2 separate regions of the Homo sapiens genome follow, and region 2 is linked to region 1. The links come from fine-mapping of genetic effects on gene expression. Tissue or cell type: testis. Region 1 holds a variant in brackets; the other region holds the start of a gene. All regions are shown on one strand. Distances are between the middles of the regions.

Evidence for each region. PIP is the estimated chance that this variant, and not a neighbour inherited with it, causes the effect.
Region 2: it holds the start of PPP2R2C, and the variant in region 1 is fine-mapped to the expression of PPP2R2C in testis (GTEx, PIP above 0.99).

What each region holds. Positions count from the first base shown.
Region 1 is chr4:6,377,818-6,385,915 of GRCh38, reverse strand. It overlaps PPP2R2C (protein phosphatase 2 regulatory subunit Bgamma), which reads left to right. Exons shown (of 9, transcript NM_020416.4): 2 at 4,822-4,919; 3 at 7,344-7,509. Among named protein-coding and RNA genes, the nearest start is that of PPP2R2C, 91 kb to the left of the region's middle. The variant G/T (reference allele first, on the strand shown) is at 3,851.
Region 2 is chr4:6,467,865-6,475,953 of GRCh38, reverse strand. PPP2R2C (protein phosphatase 2 regulatory subunit Bgamma) reads left to right here and starts at 3,340. Exons shown (of 9, transcript NM_020416.4): 1 at 3,340-3,794. The coding sequence starts at 3,725. RefSeq lists an enhancer at 5,031-5,861.

The DNA.
Region 1 (8,098 bases):
TGTCAGTACCTAGTGAAGAGCACACAATGGCCTTAAGACTGCACTTGTAGGCCGGGCGCGGTGGCTCACACCTGTAATCCCAGCACTTTGGGAGGTCGAGGTGGGCAGATCACTTGAGGTCAGGAGTTTACCAACCTGACCAATATGGTGAAACCCCATCTCTACTAAAAATACAAAAATTAGCTGGGTGTGGTGGCAGGTGCCTGTAATCCCAACTACTCGGGAGGCTGAGGCACGAGAATCACTTGAACCTAGGAGGTACAGGTTGCAGTGGGCCAAGATTGCACCGCTGCACTCCATCCTGGGTGACAAAGTGAGACTCTGTCTCAAAAAAATAAATAAATAAAATAAAAGCCTGCAGTTGTAGGAGAGACCACTTAACTGGGGGAGGGGGAAAGGGGACTATCCAGGAAGGCTTCCTGGAGGAGGTGGTATTGGAGCTGGAAATGTCAGATAATCCAAGATGAGAAGATGGACTTTCTTCACAGAGGTGGCTGCCAAAACAACCAATTTTATGGCCTTACTGATGAGAATTTCTGGCACTCAAGAGAGGCAACTTTTCCTAAGGCAAATCCTGAAGACATTTACCTATAAAAATGAGTAGACATTAAACATCCACTAGCTCCTTCATGGGCCAGAGGAAGCAGTGCTCAGGCAAGAGGGGATCTGAGGTCTGGTGGTGGTTCTGTAGATGTTTGCAGGGAGCGACTGGCGGGACTGGTAGGCGGGACCATCCACAGTGAGGTTGGGCGCCCAGATCCATCGCCACATTGCAGAGCTTGTGGCTGTCAATTCTGTGGCAGCCAGGAGCACAGGTGACCGGGAGCTTTAGTTTCTGTCCAGTACATTTTGGTGATTCATTATTCCTGGAGTCCTCGTCTTCTCTTCCTCCCTCCCAGACCCTCTCACCTCCTTGTCTCACTTGAACCTCTAATCCTGGGAAGGCTCCACCATAAGCACACTACAGATAATGAAACCAAGGCTCAGAGAAGTTGTGTGGCTTACCCAAGACCACACAGCTGAAGCACTGGAGCCAAGACTCCAACCAGCACTTCTGTCTGCAAAGAGCTCATGGCGTAGTCTCTCATGGAGGGAGCCTCCATCTCCTCTGCTGCCAAATGGAAATCACAGTAGTGTCTCCCGCAGGGGCTGGCGTGAGGTTAAAGGAGGTAGCAGATATGAAAATGACATATAAATTGTAAATTGCCCACAGACATTAGTGTGTGTTGCCTGGTAACCACCCAGCATTTGTGGACTGCATTTACTTGGGATAGCAATAGTTATATTGGCATTTTAATTTAATAGCATTGTTATGTTCCCATCATAAAAATAATATACACTGTGTGTATGCCCACCCTCATCAAATTATATACATTAAGTATGTGCAGCGTTTTATATATTGATTGTACCTCAATACAGCTATTAAAAAATGATGTAACTTCATTATAGAAAATCTAGAAAATATGGACAAGTTGAAAGAGGAGGAAATATTATTTTGTTCCAGCTACCCTAAAGCTACCTCCGTTCACATTTTGGAGAATTCTCTTCCAGCTTTTTTCCCCACTGCCCAGTTTCTTTGCTTATTTCACATGGCTATAATCACTGATGTAGATCATTACAAGCATTTTATACCCAATTTTATATCCCGTTCCTTCACCCTCAGGGGGTTTTAATATGAAATAGCAAGAACCAGCGCCCCATCGGGGACCCTAGCACAGCTGGGCTGGGTGGTTCTGGCTTCTGCCCAGATGTGTCTGGGTGTCCCTGGGCCAGGGCAGGCTGCCCCACGGAGGGACAATGTCAGGACAGCTGGGACCTGACCCTGTTCTGACTCCATGCCCGGTGGGCGTTTCCGTGTTCCCACAGAGCTGCTTTTCTTATCTTGTCTTTTTAAGTTCAGTGACATGTGCATCTGTCTTGATGGATGGATGGATACGTCCAGCCCGTCATCCCACTTCTAACCACCCTCTCTCAATCTTTTCTGTTGCCTCAAAGCTGGCATTGACTCATGGCTCAGAAGGCCAGGGCAGGCCAGGAGCTGTCCTAAAAGGCCCAGACTGGAAAAAGAAAAGGCATTTCTTGGATAGATATCTCTGGCCTGGCTACTGCATACAGGCACCATTTGAAGCCGTGAATTAAGCCTGAGGCTCCTGCCCTCATGAAGTTTACGTTCTGGCCAGGAAGAGAGCCTACAGATGATAAAAGCCTTTACAGAAAGAAAAACATCAGATTAGGTTGGGGCAGGGATGGTCAGGGTGTCCTGTATGAGGGTGCTGGGGTGCAGACAGCAGTTTCAGCAAGGTGATCCAAGCTGTGCTCACGGGAAGGCAGCAGTGGGGCAGAATTGGAAGAATAGGAAGGAGCCATGCTGGTACCCAGGGAAAGCCACTGCAGGCCGAGAGAGCAGGTCTTGGGACAGCAGGTGGCCAGGACTTTTGGGAAAGGGCAAGGAGCCTGGTGTTTGGAGGGGAATAAGCAGGTGGAGAGCAGTAGATGAGGCTGGGGAAGGGGAGGAGGTACCTTTTGCTGAGTTAAAAACACGAGACCCCGTGCATACAACAGTAAATGTTTTCATCATCTTGCATCTGCGATTCTGTGGTCTGGGCTTGGCTGGGCTTGCCCTGCTCTGTGGGTCAGTGGGGCCCTGCTGGAGGCTGGGCTTGGCCGGGGGTTGGGGGGGTTCTTCTGCACCCACTCTTCCTCCTCCCCCTCAGGGGCCAGTGGGCCAGCCTGCGCAGGTCCTGCTCCTGGTACCGCCAGAGGCGTTGATGGCAACCCCCAGTACCTAAGCCCCTTTGCATCTCTGTTTGCGGCTTGTCGAATTGCCGTTCTGCAGGCCAAAGCAAAACACAGGGACAAGCCCAGAATCAAGGTGGGGGGCAGAGAACAGGTCACCTGGCCCACCATGGGAGGGGTGAAGGTTTGGCTCCAGATGCGGCCCACCTGGGCCTCGGCAGGTGGGGGCTGCCTTTAGAACACTCTGTGCTTTTCTCTGAGTACACAATGGGAGCCGCTGGAGGGTTTTGAGCAGGGGAGTGCCAGGATCAGTCCTGGGTGTTACCAGCCTCTCTGCTGCCAGTCTGTTGAGGCTACGTCATAGCCAGGGAGAAAGAGCTGTGGCAGTCATCCAGTGAGAGGTGGGAGAGTGGCTGGCATCCCGATATGCTGTGAAGGCTGAGCAGGCAGGATTGGATGTGGGGTGTGTGTGTGTGTGTGTGTGTGTGTGTGTGTGTGTGTGTGAGAGAGAGAGAGAGAGAGAGAGAGAGAGAGAGAGAGAGAGAGAGAGAGAGAGAACGAGAAACTCCAAGGCTTGGGCCTGAGCAAGTGAACAATAGAGCTGTCATCACCTGAGACTGGGGAAGCTGCAGAGGATGAGGCTGAGGAGGGATCAGAATTCAGTTATGGTGACCAATGAAGGGTTTTGAATAGAGGGACACAGGGATGCACTGGCTCAGGAGTTTGGTCATCACGTTGGCCGCCAGAGGGAGAACAGAGGCTGGGACAGGGAACCCTGTGGAGTGTCCTCTCTGTGGCTACAGGGAGCAACGGTCAGATCTGTGGCTGGTTTGAAAGTAGATCCATTTTGCTAAAGGTGGTATCACAGATTTTGGAGACTACAGAATCCAGGCCAGGAGAGCAAAGAACGACAGAGGTCCCATTCACAGCAGCGGGCCATCCCGGGCTCCTACTAGCTTTTGCTGCTTGGGCCTATGGGGATGGTATTCTAGAACTTTCCATCTTCCAAGACATACTGGAAATGTGGATTTTTATAGGAAATCTTCTACTTTTCAAATATTAAGAATGACTTCAAATTAAAAGTAATAATCATTTTGGGGCTGCAGTAAAACTT[G/T]TTGGTGGAGCAGGCCTCAGGCTTCAGGTTGGTGAGCTGTCCTCCAGTGGGGGTTTCTCTTCCAGGCTAGGGCCTTGTCCTCCCCTGCTCTCCCCCACTCCCAGGGCTGGCCACCCAGAATGTGCAGGCCACTCATCTCTGTGACTCGTAGAACCTGAGAATGTTGGTGATGGAAGGGGTGTTCCCCTAGTTCCCACATGCAAAAAGTGGGGCCTGGAGATGGGGCTGTCTTTTTTCTCCAAACACTTGCCCATCCAGGAAGGCCAGCCCTGGGCATTGAAGACTCCAGGTATGGGGGTGACTCCATAAGGAGAGGTTCCTGAGTGACCTGAAGAAACATGGTTGGGATGAAGTGCAGGGAGGGTCAGGGCAGGCAGGGCTGAGCTTCGCTTCTGCGAGCAGAGATTAGAGAGCGATCCCAGAGGCCTGCCTGGAGGTGGGGCCACAGAGCAGGAGTCTGAAGGAGAGGGGGTAATTCACCTCTGTCCTACTGTGTGGGAAGCCCTGAGTGGGCCCCTAGCAGAGGGTTGCCTTGCGCTTATCTATGGAGATATTGGGAAGGGCTTCCCTGACCCAGGTTGCTGGAGCATGGGGGCCTGGGTGGCAGGGGTAGGTGTGGGAGATTCAAGACAGGAGGATGAGGCCACATCCAGGTGGCTTCAGATACCACCGTGAGTCCCATAGAGTGTCCAGTTACTATAAAGTCTGCCAGCCACTGTGGTCGCCCCAGGCCTGTGCCAAGTCCCGAGATCTCTGCCCTGCAGCCAGTGCAGAGGGAAGAGGAGGGCAGGAGGGGACAGGTTGGTGGCCCCTCGCCGATGCTCCTGACCCCTCAGGCTCCCTGCTGCCTCCTGCCCAGGGCTGTGGGGCCTCGGGGAGCGGGGAGCTCGCCATTGCTGTGGCACTGTTGAGCACCCGGGAGAGGCGGGTTCTGACAGCCACCCCTTCCCGTCTTGCTGTTCCCCTCCCAGCTGACATCATCTCTACCGTTGAGTTCAACCACACGGGAGAGCTGCTGGCCACAGGTGACAAGGGCGGCCGGGTCGTCATCTTCCAGCGGGAACCAGAGGTGCGAAGCCCTGGGTCTGGTGGGAGGTGGGAGGGGTGGGGAGCAGAGTCAGGTGGGAGGCGGGCATGGTGGGAGGGGATAAGGATAAGGGGGATAAGGGGTGATGCGGTGAGAGGTGGGAGGGGACTATACTCCAACCCACAAGAGGGCTTTTAACTGACAGGAGGTGTGGGGTGTCTTGCCTGGATCACATCTCCCAGGGGCATGGATTCCAGGGGTGGGAATGGGATGCTTTGGAATGCCGAGGTGGGAGTGGCGGGCGGTGGTAGGGGGAGTGCACTGGGTGGGCTGGCAAAGCCAGGTTCTGAGCCCCCTGCCCTCAGCCGATGTTTGCGGAGAGCTGCCTGCATCCCATGCTCTGTCCTAGACCCTGGATGAATGGTCAGGATGTGGCACAGGCAGCTGCTGCCCCAGCTTGTGCCTTCAGTGAAACCTTCCTCTGCCTGGGTGACCTGCGTTGTCCTGGCCAGACTGGGGAGCGGGAGGACTCCACTCTTGCCCAGCTGTCACAGCCCTCAGACTGAGCTAGGTGGTTTTTGCTCAGGCCTGGGCCCTTGTCCTCACCCCTGTCCTCACCCCCACCCCCGGGGGCTTGTTGTCCAGCAGAACTCTGGGTAAGACAGCAGTGGCCTGGACAACCTGCCCAGGACCACGTTTCTGGAACACTGAAAGAGCCTCGGGACAAAAGCCCATTTACTGAGAACACTTGCTAAGTATTCTGGAGTTGCTTCTGGTTTACTCTGCACTGCTCACCTCCGAGGGCCAGATCCACACCCCTGTGACAGATGCGGAAACTCAGAGAAGCCACCCAGCTAGTGAACAGCAGACCTGGCTGCCCGACGCCAGGACAGTGGCCAGCAACGTCACACACCACCCGGCCTCAGAGAGGGCGTCTCCCCCCGCAAACACGGACTGTGCCTGGAATTAGATGCAGAAGACATCCAGGAAACCAAGGAGGAGGGAGGAGGGGATGGAGCAGGAGAGGCAGGGGAGGGGAGGGGAGGAGGAGAAGAGAAGGTGGAGAAGGGGAGGTAGGAGGGAGGGGAGGAAGCCGGGGGTGAAGAGAGGACCTGCGGAATCATCTTTCCCCCGATTCACTCCTGAGCATGGCCCACGAACTGAGGATCCTTGAGTCTGACTTTATCTTGGTGGCTCACATAACCCTCCTCACGGTGACCCTGTGGGTGTAGTGCAGTGCGGCTACTCCCCTCATTTTACAGAGGAGGAGCCCAGAGTGCAGAGGGTTAAAATAGTTGACAAGGGGCACATCCTAGCTGCCAATCAGTTCCTCAAACACAGCACTCGGCCAGCACCTGTGGGCTTCACCAGATGCACCTGTGGGGTGTCCCACCAGGCACTGCGAAGCTCAGCCTTCTTTTTGCCAAGCTGCAGAAAGAGATCGGATTGGTTGATGCGATTTTCTTCATTTTGAATTTTTCTCCTTTAGTGTTTTCTTCCTTCTAGTCCCACTGACCTTTGTCATAGCGAGTGCTCATGGGAAGTGAAGTGAATTAGAGGCAAAAATATTGGAGAACTTCTAAGCTTTTCAAAAGCAAGACAGGGATAGAAATATAGATACTTAAAAAAATTACCAGGAAATCTTGAAATTGTTCTGGGTTGAATGTCTCCGTTTCTCCCTGGTTGGGGTTTCGTGTTGTCGTATGAGTTGAACTCTCTCCTGGGAACGTGGTCCCTGGCGCACACAGTGGACTCACCACCTGACTATGCTGGGAGCTCCACGGTCAAGGGTCTTTATTAGAAGGAGCTCTGCTGCCTAAACCAGGCCAAGCACTGCTGAGGAAAGCCGGGGACAGATTCCAATCCAGGTCTGACATTGCCAGACATTCTGTCCCAATGTTAAAGTCTGCTCCCAAATTCATTTATTCCTCAAGTCAGGCCTGAGTTGGACACGTGGAATCCAGGAGCAAGTCAGGGCCCAAGACACGAGGGTGGCCAGAGCCTCAAGCCTTGGCGTCAGGCAGGCCTCGGCAGAGGGGTGCTCGCCGGAGAGTGACCTCACGGCTCTGGGAAGTCACTTCCCCTCTGAGTCTCTGTTTGCTGGTCTGTGAAATGGGGAGAGTCGTGGTGCTCAAGCAGAGGAGGCCTGGAGGGTAGAATGCGATGGTGCGGGGAGGACTTAGTGGGGTGTCCAGCTTGTAGCAGGCGCTGGGGAACATTCGCATTAGCAAGTTAGCCGGCTCGGGTGTGAGTGTTTCATGGGACCGCACGGGAGCGGGGCTTGTCCCTGGCACACTGCAAGTCATGGGCCGGTTAAGCTGCAGAGAGTTTCATTTGACCCTCGAATTGGATCCCTGGCACGGCTCGGCACTTGGTCCCACGGCCGGCCCTGCTGGGTCCCCGGAGGTCCTAGCCGTCGCCCTGCAGGTCACGGTGCTCAGGCCCCTTCTCCGGGTTTCCCTGCAGAGTAAAAATGCGCCCCACAGCCAGGGCGAATACGACGTGTACAGCACTTTCCAGAGCCACGAGCCGGAGTTTGACTATCTCAAGAGCCTGGAGATAGAGGAGAAGATCAACAAGATCAAGTGGCTCCCACAGCAGAACGCCGCCCACTCACTCCTGTCCACCAACGGTGAGGCGCTGCCCGGCCTCGCTTGCATGGGCACAGGCCGTAGATGTTTCTACCAAATGCTGGTTTGTATTTCACTTATATTGTGAGCATTTTTCTATGTCTTCAGAACGCCTAGAAAATAATATCCTTTTTGAGCAGCATATAAATCCCATGAGTGAGTATGCCAGACCCCCTCAGACGCTCCCTGTGTCTGGACACAGGGCTGCCCCCCTTTTTGAGCAGCATGTAAATCCCATGAGTGAGTATGCCAGACCCTCTCAGAAGCTCCCCATGGCCAGACACAGGGCTGCCCCCTGCTGTGAATAGAGCCATCCGAGCCATCTTTGTAGGCCTTTGCTTTGGGGTGAGGGAGTGTGATGGACAAGGATGCAGGTCGCAGACACGGGGGATATTTGACACAAAGTGAACCCCTCCTCCCCACGCCGAATCCAGACCCCTAGACTGGGGCTGTCACCGCGGCCTTGCGGGGCAGTGGGAGGAGCCTTGGTTTAGGACCCCGGCCGGCCTCTTAATCCTCTTGCCTCAGGGAGGAGCATGTACCCCTCAGGCACCGGAGGCTCTCGGCCTGACGCCTGCTTCCCAGGCTCCA
Region 2 (8,089 bases), 90 kb before region 1:
CTCTTCCTATAGGGGCACTAATCTCTCCATGAAGACCCCACCCTCATGGCCTTGTCTAACCCAAATCTCCCAAAGGCCCCACCTGCAAACATCATCACATTGGGGGTTAGGGCTTCAGCCTGTGCACTTGAGGGGACATGGTGCGGTGCACAGCACACTTTCCATGCATGTTCTCTCTGTCAATTACAACAAGTTGGGGGCACAGAAGCACAGGGAGACATAGCCTGGTGGGGCCGTCAGAAGGAGTGGAGCATGTAAACCTGCTGAGAAGTGGCAGCGAAAGGTGGTGCCACTGAAGTAAAGGGAGGCGCATGGTCCACAGGGTGAGACCACGAGAACTCAGCATAGAGAGAGGCCAGCATGCGTCCACTGGTTCCAGGAACAGGAAAGTCATTCTCATGCCGTCTGACACAAGTTTCTTTTCTGGGGTGGGATGGATGGCAAGAAGCCAGGTTGGAGGGCACGGCAGTGAGTGAGGAGATGGCGAGTGTAGCTGTACCCTTTTGGCATTGTGGTTGTGAATGGCAGAAATGCAATGTGCTGGTGGCTGAAGGGACACGGAGTGAGGATAGCTTTTGAATGTGGAAGAGACCCAAGCAGGCTTACGCTGTGAGAAGCATCTGGAGAGATGCTGACAAATTTCACCTTATTGAGCTTTCCTCTACACTCACCTTTATAAAATGGCACCTCCTCCTCCCCGTTCCTTTCTATCTCCATCTCCATCCCCGCCTTCATCTCCATCTCCATCCCCATCTCCATCCCCGTTCATCTCCATCTCCATTCCCGCCTTCTCCTCTGCACCAGTCATGGCCCACACAGTACATGCTCACTTTATGCTGTCCATCTCACCCCACTGGGAGGCCAGCTCCACGAGAGCAGAGCATTTCTCTATTCTGTCTTCCACACTACCCTAGTGCTGGGAACATGCCTACACATAGTAGATGCTCAATAAACATTCCTCATTGAATGAATGAAAGTACAGAGAGGAGTCTGTACAGAGAGGCTGGGGGTGGCAGGATCTGGAGCTCAGGCTCTGTCAGCGGGGGCAGGGCTGTGTGCAGATACAGATGAGGAAGCAGCAGATTGTGTGATTTAGTGGAGGTGGGGGGTGGGCAGGGGGCTGAGGGAGAGTCCTCGGTTGTGCTGGAGGGGGAGGGCTTCCAGGAAATGGAGGAGACAGTGTGGAGGAGCCCAGACACTGCTTGTGGTGGGGGTGGGGCAGGATGGGGTGGTGAGGGGTGAGGAGGGGATGGATGCAAGCCTTGGGGCCCAGTCAGGTTGGAAAGACCACCCACTGCAGGGTCCCCAGCATGGCTCAGAAGCTGATGAAAGGGATGATGTACTGTGTCAGGCCAGAGTGGGGCTGTTTTCATTGTAGTCCAGGACATCCCGGGAGATGAGGCTGATGCCAGCATAGGGTGGGTGTTTTGGCAGGATTGACAGATAGGGAGAGGGGACTTCTCCATGATCAGAGAGGGAGGCTGAGGAACATGCGGGAGGGTGGGCCTCAGCATGATAACAAGAGAGCTCCCAGGAGGCCTGACCCCTGCTGAGCAGGACTGGCCACCCCAACCCAGTGGGGCCACTCCTGCCATCACATCCACTTTACAGATGAGGTTGTGCCTGGGCCCCCTTGTGGTCAGGACTTGAACCCAGCCTGTCTTTCTCCCAGCATAGCCATTTTGCTGGCTCCAGCTAGAGAGGTGAGGGGGTGTGGACAGAGAGTGGGGGGCTGGCCTTAGGATGTGAGGTGGGGGGCATGTGAGCAGACAGGTGAGAGAGAGAGAGGAGAACATGCCAGGTGGGTGGGGGCCAATGTGGGTGTCGGTCACTTTCCTACGGGGTAGAAAGTGACAAAGAACAAGCACATCCTTCCGGCCCTTGCATTTACCTGGTCCTTGAATGGAGTCTGCACAGCTGGGAGATTTTGGCTTGTTCCACAGTGAAAAGGTAGAGGCTGGAACAGGGCAGGGCACTTGCCAAAGCAGGTGCTGGCAGGGCCCCAGGGCCTCTCCCCAGGCCAGCCCTTGCATGACAGCCTGCAGAGTGCTGGTGGGGCTGCTGGGGGGCTTTCATCTCCTCATAGGTCCATTCTGGGGATTTCAAAGGCACGAAAGCTGTAGCTTCAAAAACTCCCTCTCAATCTCCAAGAAATCTGAGACGGCATCACCTTCCCTCGTCTTTCCCACAGCCCCAGTCTCCCTGCCCCCAACGCCTTTGGACTCTCCTACCTCCACTGCAGTTTGGGGAGCTGTCTGGAGTTCCCCCAGAACCATTTGAAACAAGTGGAGGCCATTACAGACCAGCCCCCACCTGGAGCATGGCTCCACTGATGCCTTAGACCCAAGAGCCCCTGCAGCTCTGGTCACCCCACTGCACTTACCCCTCCCAGGCAAGCCACAGAGTCCCTCGCTTTCCAGGAAGGCTCTGTTGAGCTCCTAGGGAGGGCTGATGGTTCCTCACCCACACCTCTGAATCCCCACTGGGGCTTGTGTCCCGTGCAGGGGACTGTGATTCATTAGGCGGTGGGTCACGGTGGAGGAGGTGGCAGCTTGGCAAAACAGGAGGCAAATATTTTTTGAGGGCCCACTATGTGCCAGGCTGATTACCAGAGGGAGGTTCCTGTTTGGCAGAGCCCTGGGTTTGGAGGGGAGGGAGGGAAGGGAGGAGGGGGACGCATTTTCCAGCCTGGTTTTGGAGGTACCTAGCTCTGTATTTCTTTAACTTTCTCACTCGTCAGGAGAGGTGGGCATGAGGAGAGATCTCAGAGCCCTGCCTGGGGGAGGCCCAATCACCCCTCCAGCCATTTCATCCAGTTTTGCCTTGTCGGCTGCTGGACCCCCTCCACCAGCTTCTTCACATGTACTTAATGCTCCCAACGGGCCCCAGAACTTGCGCGACCCACCCTCTTCTACTAATGAAGGGAGACAGTGTCCTTCCCCTCCCCCGAGTCCCCATTCTCCAGGTGCGCCCTCTTCAACTGCGACCCCACTCCTTCCTTCCTAGTCCTTTCTGCCTTCTGCCTGCGAGGCTGCTCTCCTCCTGCCCCCTTCCCAGCACCCCGGCTCTTGGCCTTCTCTCCCATAACTGGAGCACCTGGGCACCCAAGGTACCCTCCCCCCAAGCTCAGCTGATCACCCTCTCCCCGCAAGCTGGCGGTCTCCTTCCTCCCTCCCCCGTGGCGCACCCAGCACCAAGGTGCCCACCGCGAGGGCCCGAGCACGGCGGTGCAGCCTCGGCTTGGGCGCCGGCTCCACCTGCAGGGCCGCGGGGGCGGAGAGCGGGCGGCGCGAGGGAGGGGCCTGCGACAGCGGCGGCGGCGGCGGCCCCAGCCCGCGCAGCCCGGCTCGGCCCCGGCTTGGTCGGCGCAGCGCAGCGCCGCGCGCGTCCCCTCGCCGCCGTCGCCGCAGCCAGGCGCACCGGCACCAGGCCCCGCCGCCGGGCGCACGGACGCAGCGCGCACGGGCCGGCCGGGATGCGCGCCTGGGCCCCGGCCCGCCCGAACCCGCGGCCGCCGCCCGCCCACCGCGCGCTCGCTTGACCGCGGCGCCCGCCCCCGGCCGCCCCCGCCCGTCCCCCTGCCGCGATGCCCTCCCTTCGGGGCCCCGGCGGCCCGCGCCCCTGCTAGGCTGCGGCGGCATGGCCCGCGCGCCCGGCGCGACCTCTGCGGATTGCATCGGTGTGTGGCGGCGGGGCATGCCCAGAGCACCGGGCACGGCCTTCAATGGGCGAGGACACGGACACGCGGAAAATTAACCACAGCTTCCTGCGGGACCACAGCTATGTGACTGAAGGTAACGTACGTGTTGTCTGAGACCCCTCCGGCCGGCCGCGGCGTGGGGATGCCGTCGCACCGAATGCCCTCCGAAGGTTTGGACCGCGCGATGTGTGTCGTGTCCCCCCGCCCCACCCCACCCCACCCCATCCCACCCCACCCCACCCCATCCCATCCCACCCTGCCCGGGGCCCAGGAGGGAGGGAGCCCGAGGGTACCGGCCTCCGCTGCCCAGCGCCGGCACAGGGCAGCGCCCTCCTCCGCGCCGCCCTCCGGGAGGCAGCTTTCCTCTCCCAAGCCAGGTGGCATCCTGATTCGGCCCTGACCATAATTTTTTAAAAGGCCACGGCTGTGGCTAATCTGGTGAAGAAATCTCGGGGAAATTTAATGGTTTAAATCCTGGATTTGCCATTTCAGCCCTGCCCAAAGCCCGCAGAATTTTCTAGGCTGCCCTCTCCCTGGAGAAGAAGAGGGACCCGGGGGGAAAAAAACATAATCCATTGCCAGATCCTCCTGGGAGGCCCGCCTGCCCGGGCCCCTCCCTGTCCTCCAGAGGCAGGGTCCCTGAGTGGGAGGGAGAAGGCGGCTGGTTTGGGGCTGGCCTTTTTATTCCTGGTGAGTTATATTGAGACAGGAGCAGCTGGGCTAACTGTCGGGATTTTCCAAAAAAGTGGGACATGCCATCCCAAACAGGCCCTGTTTAAAATCCCCTAAGTTGGCCCTACAAGCCCAACCCCCACCCCCACCCTACCCCCGAGGCTGGTGGGTCAGCGCCCCTCTCTTACAGGCCTGGAACTTCCGGGGGCCCCCTGGTCTGCCTCGCTAGGGGAACAGTGGGGACAGCTTCCGTGCGCAGGCAGGGCCCGCGGAGTGACCCCGATGGAGGATGGGGACCGGGAGGTCTGGGCTCGGGGCCGCCTGTGCTGGAGCCCTGCCCGAGTGCGGGGACTGTCAGCCGCTAACCCACGGGCTGGCGGCCCGGCCGCAGAAGTGTGCGCGGATTCCCCGGGTGGGTGCCCCAGTGGGAGGGGCCCTGGGCACGGGTCCCGCGGGGCAGGTGCGCGTGGGTGCCTGTGTCAGGGAGACCGAGTGGGCCAGGCGGCGGAGACCGGGCTCCTGCGGCTGGGTCCGCCTCCTCGAAGCCTGGCTCTGCCGGAAATGAGGCCGAGCGGAGCCGGAGCCCCGCGGAGGCCCGGGGAGCGCAGCGCGAGCGCGGGCGCGGGCGGGCTCGGGGCGCCCTGGCCCGGGAGGCAGAGGCTGGGCGTGGGACCTGGGCGGAGGGAGGCTGCGGGGGCCGCGCCCGCTCCCGGCGGGAGAACCGCTGAGTCACGCACGCTTCGCCGCCGGGTGTGTGCGAGAGAGGGGCAGGGCTGCCCGGGCCTCCGGGCCGGTGGGGCTCTGACCCGGCCGCGGCTTTGGGAGGCCCGGGGAGCTGAGAGCGGTCCTTTGTCGCCTGCTTCGGCGAGGCTGAGTCGGGATCAGCGTGGGTCCGGGATGTGGTTTCTGCTCGCAGCCTGCAGCGACAGAGGGTTGGAGGAAGCCGCCGGGTTGCTGGCCCGTGCCTCGGTGGCCTGGCTCGGGCCGAGAGCGGATCTTGGCAGGTTGCCCCGCTGCTCCCAGGCTCGCTGTGGTCTGGCTTCCTGGAGCAAGCCTCTGTTTGCTCATCTCTACGTTGGGGATGACGGTGGGATGGGGCGCAGGGCTCGTTGTGGGACCAGGCGTAAAAAGCGCCATGGTGGACATTTTCAAACATTAATTCCCTCTGCACCCTGCCCGTCCCCTTTTCTTTCATAAATTCACCAGCCCTCAGCAGGGCACAGGAACGGGGACGGCACAGTTCTGGAGGTCAGAGCAGTGCTATCCAATCCTTCATCCAGACACGAGATATTTACCGAGCACCTGCTGCATGCCGGGCACTGTTTTATCCCTGGGGACTGGACAAAGACTCCCTGCCCTTGTGCGGCCTGAATTCTATCAGGGAGCTATATGACCTTGAGGTCTGTCTTCTCACCAGGGCTCAGTCTCCCCATCTGTAAAATGGGAGTGAATCCTGCCTACAGGGTCTGGAGGTTTCTGTGAGGAGCAGGTGCAACGGTGTTGAAGGAGCCGTTCAGAGCTATGCATTGCTAACGTGCAGCCAAAGGATGCTGAGCACCTGCTGTGTGCTGGGACCTCATACGAAGGCTCACCTACGCCTTATCCCCACCTTGAGATGAACAAACCAAGGCCTGGCCTTGTGCCTGGTCCAGACCGAGTGCCAGTGTGTGCAGGGCATAGGGCTCAGGTGCTGCGGATGCAGAGAGCAGGATCGGAACAAGAAACAATAATAATCATTATAATAGGTAGAATTCTGGCCTCCCTAATGAAAAACACACTTTCACACTGTTGCATCCTGACTATATTTCATGCTCAGAGCACAGGGAAGGTCACAGATTTGAATGTCAGAATGTCAGACTTGAATCATGTTAAAGTCCTGCCTCTGACTCCTGACTGCTGTGCAGCCTTGGACAAGTTACTACACCTTCCTGAGCTTCACTTTCCCTTTGTAAAGGGAGAAATAATAACGACCTTTCATACAGGGTTGCTGGGATGATCAGTGATTTTGCTAATATCAAAAGTGCCCAGCACAGTGCTTGGGTTGTTGGAGGCATTGAACACATGGCATTGTTATTATTTATATGCCTTGTAACTGGAAGAGCCTGTGGGCAAACAGTGGATGCTAAAATTCAGTTTGCGGAAGAACCAGGTGCACAAACTCCTGTTCTACCTGTGGTTGAGTCTACACTCCCCCACCACACCCCAGCTGCTCTGATCTACCTCCTGTTCCTTGAGCAGGCCATTTTCTTTCTTGCTTCAGGGCGTTTGCAATGGCTGTTGCCTGGAATACCCACCTCCTGCCTTTCTCACCACTGACTCTTTCTCATCCTTTGGGCCCCATGTCCAATGTCATCTTTGCCCGTGGGAGCCCTGCTTGGGTTCCTGAGTCTCTTGTAAAATCTCAAACATCTTAGGAAGAGTTTAGGTTTTGTTAGTCATTCACATCTTGGTGTGAATTCGTCAGAGCAGGTTGGATTTTTTTTTTTTTTTTTTTTTTTTTTTTTGGTGGCAGGGCTGGGTGGCTTACTCTTGGCTGGGCTCAACTGCATTGAGGGTTATGGTGATGATTAGGTGTACCTGCAGGCCACCTGGGGGCACAGAGAACTTTGCATGAATGGGGTCAGGGTGTGGGGAGAGCAGTGCAGCTGATAGGGCACTGGGCCCTGGGCCCTGGACCCTGGAGGGTGCTAGGAAGTCTCCATCTAGTTAGACATTTCTCAAGAGCTGGATATGGTTCCAGGAAGGACTCTTCCTGGCTCTGTTCTTTCTCTTTTTGCGGCAGGCCTCAGTACTTAGCTTTAGAGTGAGTTGAATAAGCACTTCCAGACTAGACTGAACTTACAAAACCCATCCATCCTTCCTTTGCTTAGCACCATTTGCCAAGCACATCCTGCCCTGGGCAGCAGTGATGACCAAGACACAGGAGCTCAGCCAAGGGGAGGTGGTTCAGGCTGACCAGGTAGATCCTGGCAGTGACTGGGTCTTTCTGGGGAGCAACAGTCACTCTCATGTGCCTGACAGGTAAGGCACTTCCGGAGCACACTTTTCAGCTGAGGCCAGAGGCACAGCTTCCCCTTGTTTGAGCATCTCAGCCATCACACACTGTTGGACACTCATGCTTTTTGCATCTGCATAAAGGATGTACCCATGTTTTCCTAACTCCCATCCCTGGATGTCCTGTGTGATTTCAGAGTAGTCTGTTTATTCCCACAGAGTTGTCCTGATTTTATAGTTGAGGAAGTGAAGGATGCTTGGGAATTGCTAAGGTCATCATGGGGTCCTGAGGCTGTCTGAACGCAGCAGGCAGGCAGGTTTTCCTGCATGGAATTGTCTGCAGGTTTTGAACTGGTTGTGCCCTGGATACCATCTACTTTCTGCCCAGGAAACCACACTGAAGAGGGGATGCTGCTTGTGGGAGACTCAGCATTCAGTGAAATCTGCACCCTTATGGTGGACGTTGCAGCTGATCTCCACAACAGTTAGTCTCTCTTCTTCCAAGGAGAACACATATGGTTCCTAGTAAGAGATCTCAGGCCATAGCTGGATGTGATCAGTGCAAGGATGATCTCATTCCCCTTGCAGTGACTGGTTCCAGAATGGATGTGGGAGTCAGTTCTGGAGGTTGAGTGGAAAGTAGGGAGAACCACAGGTAGTTGGTCCCTCTCTTGTGATGGGAACAGGGAAACCTTGTGGTGGCTGGCAGCCATCTGACACCAT